Regions from separate parts of the Homo sapiens genome. Here region 1 is linked to region 2. The links come from fine-mapping of genetic effects on gene expression. A gene starts in region 2. The other region holds a variant in brackets. All regions are shown on one strand. Distances are between the middles of the regions. Region 1 overlaps MRGPRF (MAS related GPR family member F). Region 2 holds the start of MRGPRD (MAS related GPR family member D).

What was found. PIP is the estimated chance that this variant, and not a neighbour inherited with it, causes the effect.
Region 1: its variant is the best candidate, but not a certain one, in a credible set for the expression of MRGPRD in esophagus muscle (GTEx, PIP 0.83).

The regions. Positions count from the first base shown.
Region 1 is chr11:69,003,419-69,007,803 of GRCh38, forward strand. MRGPRF (MAS related GPR family member F) reads right to left here. Exons shown (of 3, transcript NM_145015.5): 3 at 980-2,843. The coding sequence ends at 1,860. Among named protein-coding and RNA genes, the nearest start is that of MRGPRF-AS1, 6.7 kb to the right of the region's middle. RefSeq lists enhancers at 453-954, 4,201-4,385. The variant G/A (reference allele first, on the strand shown) is at 2,517.
Region 2 is chr11:68,979,155-68,983,539 of GRCh38, forward strand. MRGPRD (MAS related GPR family member D) reads right to left here and starts at 1,832. Exons shown (of 1, transcript NM_198923.2): 1 at 867-1,832. The coding sequence starts at 1,832. The coding sequence ends at 867. RefSeq lists an enhancer at 812-1,321.

The DNA.
Region 1 (4,385 bases), 24 kb after region 2:
AGGGCAGTGGAGGTCAGGTTGGCCGGGCAGTGGATCATCAGGGACACAGAACTGGGGGGTCAGCCCACTGAGGGCTGGACCACTTCACCAGGGGCAGGCTGAGCAGGCTCCAGGGCCTGCAGTTAGAAGGCCACGTTCCAGGTGGCTGGGTGCGTGAACCTGGTGGTACTGCCCACGCCTCTACTCATTCCCACCTGGAGCTCGGAGTGCTGCCCGCCTGCCTGCTCCTGGCTCTGCTCTGCAGACGAGGGGCCCAACTCTGTCAGCCACGTTTCCTGACTGGGGGCACCAACACCTCTGCCATGATCTCTCTCCATGGGACCATGGGGTGAGCAGGCTTGCCTTAAGGCTTGTCTCAAAGGAGCCAGGGTCCTAGGTTGCACACCAGGAACCCAGGATGGGGCCCTTCTGGGGGCTGACCAGAGGCAAAAGGGCCAGGCAGGAACCCTTCTAGCGTGGCGCTGGCTGGGCTGTCATCTTGGGAGGGCTCCCAGCCTATCGCTGGGTTGTAGAGAGATGTCTGGGCACTGGGAGGCTGGCTCAGGGATCTCAAGACAGAGAGGGGCATCCTGAACGGGGGCAACAGGAGGAGAGGCAGCAATCCACTCCACGGAGCCTCCGGTGGACACAGGCAGGACCATGGTGGCCGGCCCAGAGCCTGGCATGGAGGAGGTGAGAGCTGTGGCTCCCAGAGGCCGTGGGGGCCTCCGAGCTGAGAAGGGGCACTGGGATACGCCGGCACAGGACAGCCTGGCTGACCACGGCTCCCTCTGGCAGGGAGTGGACAAGCCACAGGAGCGGGAACACGGGTGTGTGCAGACCCAGCCCCAGGAGGAGGCCTGAGAGCAGAGGCAAAGAGCAAAGTGTGCGGGAGAGCTGGCGGGGGGTGCCACCCGTCCCGGGACTCTGTGCCCTTGGGCGTCCTCACTGTCGGAAACAGAGACCCAGGGTAGGACTGTGGGCATGAAGCCTTCCTGGCTGCAAGTTATAAAATGTTTATTGATATACATTTTGTCTTTTATAAAACTTCCGTTGGCCACATTGGGCCACTGTGCACCACAGTGCCAGTCCCCAGGTGGCCAGGGCGGAGCCAGTGTCCACTTTCGGGTGGGGGCTGGAGCCAAGAGGCTGTCCAGGAGCTGCCCAGTGGGTCCTCATGGCCTGCGGGATACCTCAAGTGCTCCCGGAGGCAGCCTAGGACTGGCTCGTCCCGGAGTCAGAAAAGGCAGGTCAACTACCCAAGGCGGCCAAAGGCCCTTCCTGTCTCCAGAGCCTTGACATAACCAGAAATCCCCCCATCAAAGTCACCAAATGACTCGACGGGGGGAAGGGAGGTTGTTTGCAGAAAGACTTAGCTACAAGGCATGTGAACCAGAACTTTCTTCCAGACACCATTTCCTTCACATTTGCTCACTGATAATGCCTTAAGAGGATCGAATCTCTGGAACAGCCCTGAATGGCAGGGATGAGGCTGCTGGCCTGGTGCTGGCTGGGACACAGTCAAGGAGGGCTGACCCAAGAGGCAGAGGTGGCTAGGCTGGGTGTTGACCTCCTCTCTTTTACCAACCAGCCTAGGGCAAGGAGGGGCCCCACCACCTGGGGGCAACTTCTGTACAAGAGGTCTCTAGGGGAGCAGAATGGGTGGGGGAGCCGGGCAGGGGCCACAGGGTCTGTTTGCTGGTGGCTGCCCAGTCTCCCAGCCACCCCTGGAGTCCCCAGCCCAGGGAGAAGGAGGCCCGAGGAGAGGAAACAGATCTTTCTTCTCCTGTATGGACTCAGAAGCAGGTGCCCATTCCTGTCCCAAGGCGAAGGGTCTTGGAGGCCGCTTCCTGCCCCTGCCTCCTCCAGGCGCTGGAGTCTCAGGAGGCGTTCCCCGGGGGACACTGCATCTCCATGGTGACTGTGTTGGGCGTGCTGCCCCCGGCCTCCCCCAGCTCAGCGCCGTCCCGCAGGGCCCGCTGGAAGACCACCCTGAGCGGCTCCCACAGCCGCTGCGACTTGTCCCTCCCGGCCAGGAAGTAGACGATGGGCTTGGCGCTGCTGTTGATGCAGATGCACAGGTCAGTGACGTACTCGGGGAAGGGGGCCGGGATCTGGAAGACCCAGAAGAGGAACCAGTCGATCCCTAAGTAGATGGAGGACACCAGGAAGACGGAGACCATGGCCAGGATGACGTGGTTGAGCTTGGCAGAGCGCTGGCGCCGTCGGGCCCGGCACTCCACGTGCAGGATGAGGGCCAGGCAGGGCAGCACCATGAGCGGGCAGCAGAGCAGGAACAGGAGGATGCCCAGGAAGATGTCCATGTGCCTGCAGGCCGCGCCGGGGGCCCCGCGGCCCAGGAACACGCAGAAGTAGTTGTGCAGGCAGGTGACCAGGAGGGACAGGACCCACAGCAGGGCGCACACCACGGCCGACAGGCGCTTGGGCCGCCGGCGCCAGTACCAGGCGGGGAAGATGACCGAGGCGCAGCGCTCGGCGCTGACGGCCGGCAGGAGGCTCACGCCGGTAAGGAACAT[G/A]CAGAGCCCCAGGACCCGGCACACGCTGCGGATGTAGTCGGCAAACGTGCCCAGGAAGCCCCCCGTGTTCAGGATGGAGAACACCGCCTTGCTGAAGAGGTAGCCCACATCGGCGCTGGCCAGGTGCAGGAAGTAGATGGAGAAGGGGTTCCTCTTGATGGAGAAGCCGAAAAACCAGAGGACCAGCCCGTTGCCCACCAGGCCACACAGGCAGAGGAGCAGGAAGATGTAGTTCATGACGGCCGGAGGCGGCAGCATCGCGATCTGCTCGATGGTCAGGAAGCCCCGGCTGTAGAGTTCCGGGGCCTCGCTCAGGCCAGGGCACATCTGCGCAGGTGCAGAGAGGGACACCTGTGATGCCGGCTGGCCCCCACCCACAGACCTGCATCTGGGGCCCAGCGTGGGGGAGGGGGGGGGTCCCAATTAGGGACTTGGGGCAGGGAGGGGGTCTGTAAGGCAGTGGCTGTGGAGCAGCTAACTGGCTGCAACTCTATCCTCAAACGCCCCTGACCTCACCTGATGTTAACTCTCCGTCCCAGCGTCTAGAGCTAGCAGCACACAATGGTGCCTATAGGAGTAGAGGTAGCACCAGACAGTGCCCAGGAAGGGTGCCAGGCTGCCCACCGGTCAGAGTAGACTGTCCAAAAAACGTCCAAGTCGCACAAAAAACTGCAGAGCCTTTCCCTTTTTTTTTTTTTTTTTTTTTGAGACAGAGTCTCACTCTGTCACCAGGCTGGAGCGTGCAGTGGCACGATCTCGGCTCACTGCAACCTCTGCCTCCCAGGTTCAAGCGATTCTCCTGCCTCAGCCTCCTGAGTAGCTGGGACTACGGGCACGCGGCACCATGCCCGGCTAATTTTTGTATTTTCAGTAGAGACGGGGCTTCGCCGTGTTGGCCAGGATGGTCTCGAACTCCTGACCTCAAGTGATCCACCTGCCTCCCAAAGTGCTGGGATTATAGACGTGAGTCACTGCGCCTGGCTGAGCCTTTCCATTTTTAAGAAGAGCAAAGAGACATGACTCCTAAACACAGTGTTAGAATCCTGGATTATACGCTGGATCTCAACAACTGCTGCAGAGGATATCGTTGGGACCACTGGGGAAATGTGAGTATGGACGATGCAGAGATAATGGCATTGCATCGGTGTTGCAGCTTTTGAATGTGACAATGTACTGTGGCTACGCACATTTTCACTATGTGGCTACGGGAACGTCCTTGTTCTTAGAAGATACAGGCTATTTGGGCATCAAGGGCTTGGTGTCTGCAATTTACTTTTGTTTGTTTGTTTGTTTTTGAGACAGAGTCTTGCTTTGTCAGGCTAGAGTGCAGTGGCCCGATCTTGGCTCACTACAGCCTCCGCCTCCCAGGTTCAAGCAATTCTCCTGCCTCAGGCTCCCGAGTAGCTGGGACTACAGGCACGCACCGCCATGCCTGACTAATTTTTGTATTTTTAGTAGAGATGGGGTTTCACCATGTTGGCCGGACTGGTCTCGATCTCTTGACCTCAGGTGATCCGCCCATCTTGGCCTCCCAAAGTGCTGGGATTAGAGGCGTGAGCCACCGCACCCAGCCTTGCAATTTACTTTCAAATCATTCTGGGAAAAAAAGCCTATCTGTCAAGAGATAGAGAGAAAGCACTTGTGGTGAAGGGTTAACGATGACTGAGCTGAGGTGAGGTATTGGCGGGCATTGTACTATTCTTGCAAAATCTTGCAATGTTTCAACAAACACGAAACTATTTGAAGAAATAAAATCACTTGTAAGTTACATTTAAAAAAAAACAACGAGTGGATCTCGGCCTTCCCCGGAGCTGGACCCTGTCCTCTAGTGGGATGGGAGGTGGCTTCCTGATGAGCCAGGGTTGCCCC
Region 2 (4,385 bases):
GTGTCCCAGATGTTCCGTCTTTGGGCTTTTGGGCAAAGTGAGGGGGCCCTGGGAGGGACAGTCAGTGAGGTATGAGACTCTGGCTCTGGGGGACACTGCCTGGAAGGCTGCCCTCCACTGCCTGGGGCACTGTCCTATCAGCATCTGCTGGAGTGACTGCCAGTGAAGCCAGGCAGAGGCTCTTCCCTTCCCAGTGCGGCCTGGAGGAAAGCGAACAGGCCTGCCCTGGGTGCGAGGGGTGACAGGGTAAGGCGACCTCATAGCAAATGCCAGGGGTCAAGGGCTGGCCAGGGGTCAGAGGGATGGTGGGGCAGAGTCTCATGGCCCACAGCCAGCGAGATCCGGGTCGGCGATGGCGACACCGTTTACTTGCCAGACTTCAGGCACACCTGGGGAAAGGTGCACGGGGGCACCACCTTGGTGGCCAGTTGATGCCACCCAAGGACCAGCATAGGGCCAAAGATCACCCGAGGTCACCTGCCTCCTCCACAAAGATGCCGTCTTAGGCAGAGAAGGTGGTTGGGAGAAAGCTTTCATATTCAAATGAGATTCCTGTTATCCACCCATAGATAACCAGCTTAAAGCAGGGTAGGGCTAAAAGCTAATATTTTCCCCCAACCAGATAATCTGCTATAAACAAATAAATTGCATCTTCCAGCGGGGTTGCATTGTGAGATCCAGGACACAGGTGTTGTGGGGAGTTTTGACATGCAGGGAAGTGACCCCCACATGCAGCTGCAAAGTCCTTGGGGCTCCCCCAAGAAGGCGGGCCAGACACTTGGCAGGGACGAGGTGGGAGGCAGCTCACGGCTCGGGAATCTCCAGGGCATGGGCTCGCACAGGTGGGAAGCACCTGTGGGCGGCTCTCAAGCCCCCATCTCATTGGTGCCCACGGTGGGCGTCTCCCCACCTTCCAGCTCGGGCTCCTCGCGAAGCGCCTGTTGGAGCACAGTCCCCAGGGACCTGGTGGGCAGCCTGTGGCTCCTCCGGCTGCCCACCAGGAAGTAGATGACGGGGTTGGCGCTGCTGCTTACGGACGAGGAGAGGCGTGACAAGCTGAAGCACAGGACCTGCATCTCGGGCGGCAGGCTCAACCAGTAGAGCACAAACCAGTAGATGCTCAGAGGCAGGGAACAGATGAGGAACACCAGGACAGAGGCCAGGACCACCACGAACAGCCGTGTGGGCTGCCGCCGCCACTGCTGGGAGCTCCTCCGCACCCAGACAAAGAGGGTCAGGCTGGACAGAGTCATCACTGGGGTTAAGACCCCCATGATGAGGGCGGCCTGGACCATGTCCACCCTGAAGCACCGATCTTCATTGAATTTCAAGAACTTGCTGCAGAAGGAAGAGGTCAACCCGTTCATCAGGAGACAGAGTGTCCACAGCAGGCCACACACCCAGGCTGACAGGTGCCTGGGCCGGTGACACTTGAACCAGATAGGGAAGAGGACAGAGAGACAGCGCTGGGTGCTGATGGCCGTCAGCAGGCTCAGGCCCACTGTGTAGGCAAAGTACATCAGTCTCTTCATCAGCTCGTGGACCTTGTCAGTGGTATTGACCAGGGGCTGGGTTTCCAGGCTGAGCGTGGAAGCCATGCTGAAGAGGAAGAGGAGGTCGGCTGCCGCCAGGTTGAGGATATAGATGCAGAAGGGGTTCCTGTGCATTCGAAAGCCCAGCAGCCAGATCACCATGCTGTTGCCTGCCATCCCGCACAGGCAGGTGAACATGGCCAGGGAGCTCAGCACCAGGTAGGCCGTGTGCACTGTGCTCCCTCTGGAATAGTTTAGGGCTGACTCCACGGTCCCACTGCTATTCAAAGTCTGGTTCATCCCTACGAGAGGAAGATGTACCAATGTGAAATTCTGTGTTGCTGGGACCACGGGGGACCCCTGGGTGCCCCTCGAATTTCCAGCTTCAGAGCTCTCCCCTCCAGGTTCTTTATGTAACAGACCATGACCGGGAGGCTTAACCTTCCCCCACTCCTGTGACTCACTCAGCCCAGATCTGCCTCCAGGGTCACCTTTATAGCTACAAAGCTGTTATAAATACCCTTTATCAGGTTAAAAAATTCTCTTCTATCTTGCTTTGAATTATTTTTTAAATCATGGAGAGGTATTGAATTTTATCAAATGCTTTTTCTACATCTATTATAGAAAAATCATTATTATCAATAGATGTAGAAAAACTATTTGATAGAAACATTTGAAATCATTTTTTTTTTCTCCTGTAATTGTCAAACCCTGTGAGTTAATTAAAAAAACAATAGACCTTAGGGCTGGGCGTGGTGGTGCATGCCTGTAACCCCAGCACTTTGGGGTTTGCTTGAGGCCAGGAGTTTGAGACCAGCCTGGGCCACATAGCAAGATCTCATCTCTACAATTTTTTTTTTTAATTAGCCAGGCATGGTGGCACACACCTGTGGTCCCACCTACTTGAGAGGCCAAGGCGGGAGGATCGCTTGAGCCTGGCACATTGAGGTTGTAGTGAGCCATGGTCCCGCCACTGCACCCCAGCCTGGAAGACAGAGCGAGATGCTGTCTCTTAAAAAAAAAAAAAAATTAGACCTCAGGGCAAAGTGTAGAATTAACTACACTCCTTAGTTTAAGACACACCATGAGCATCAGCCCATTAAAAACCCTCCATTTATTCAAGTTTCCTTCCCCATCCCATCTTAGCTGCCTTTTTCCTCCTGCCGCTTGCATCCATCCAACCTGTTTCACGCAAATCCTTGGACACCTCAATATCTTTCAAGATGGAGTGGTTGCCCATTGTGTTTTAAATTTACGTAAATGTTGTGATTTAGAATTAATGATGGGTTTTTTATTTTTCACTTGACAATATGTTTGTAGGATATATCCAGGTGGCTGTATGCAAAAGTTGTGGTTTAAAATGTCATCATGCACATTGATCTGTTATCCATTCCTTACTGTGGATCCTCAGCTTGCTTCAAAATTCCCATTATCACCAAAACACTGTGTTGGACATCCTCATGCATGTACCCATTGGACTTGACTCAATATTTTTCTGGGATACATTCTTGGAGGAGGATTGCTCGGTCATAGAACATATGCACATTTAGTCTCACTAAATATTGCCTGGTAATTCTTTTTCTGAGTGGCTGCTTCAGGTTTCACCTGTACCAGCAGAATAGGAATGTTTACGTTTTCCCATTCTCTCACCAACACTTGGTGTTATTTGTTTTTCTAACTTTTGCCAACCTGATGGTTGCAAAGTGATATACTGTAGATGTTTTAACTTGCATTTCTGTGATTACAGTGAGTTTGAGCATCAATTCATATATCTGTTAGCCATTTGGAGTTCCCCTTCTTCAAATTGTCTGTTCACACCTGTTGTCCATTTTTCAATTGGGTTTCTTTTCTTTTCCTTTCTGATTTGCAAGAGTTGCTTGTATTTCTAGGTATTAATGCCTTCCTGGATTTAGACATTGCAGATACTTTTCTCTGAGAACGCTCTGTTTTTTATGGCAACTTTATCTATTGTGAACTTTGGTTGGAAGACATCCTAAATTTTGGTATAGCCAACTCTTCAGAATTTTTTTCTCTGAAATTTTGTGTCTTCTAAATCTGAAAGTATTCTGTCTCCCTGGATAAAAAATGTAGTCTTTTCTATTTTCTTCTATTACTTTTATAGTTTTTCCCATTCAGATTTTGTTCTTGGATCCAACTGGAATCTATTTTTTATGAGCTTGATTTTTCCTCCATAGTATGGATCAGCTTTCCTAACACTGTCTCCTAAACAGTCTGTCCTTTCCCTATTGACTTATTAAGTTCTCATTTACACATGGGACTGGGTTTTTAATTTCATTCTTCATTCTGTGTCATTGGTTTGTCTCTCAGTTCCTACAACATTAACACAGTGTTTTGTTTTGTTTTTTTTTTTAAATATGTCTTTCTGCTATGTCATTTTATTTTATGAGATGCATGTCCCTTCTTTAACTTTGTTTGCCAAAATTGAATTAGCCATTTGTGAATCTTTATTCTTCCTTAAAATTTTAGAGCAAATTTTTGGAATTCCTAAAAGAAAGAAACTCTCAAGTTTTCAGTAGAAGCTCATAGAACTTGCAGAATATTGTATTAGAGAATTGTCACATTCACAATGTTAAGTCATTATGTCCATAGTCTGAAATGTCTCTCTGTTCTCAAATCCTTTCTTACATCCTGTAAAATAATTAATAATAACATTGAATTTTTTTTTTTTTTTTTGAGATGGAGTCTAACTCTTTTTGCCCATGCTGGAGTGCAGTGGCACGATCTTGGCTCACTGCAACCTCCAGCTCCTGGTTTTAAGTGATTCTCCTGCCTCAGCTTCCTGAGTAGAGTAGCTGGGATTACCGGCACCCACCACCACACCTGGCTAATTTT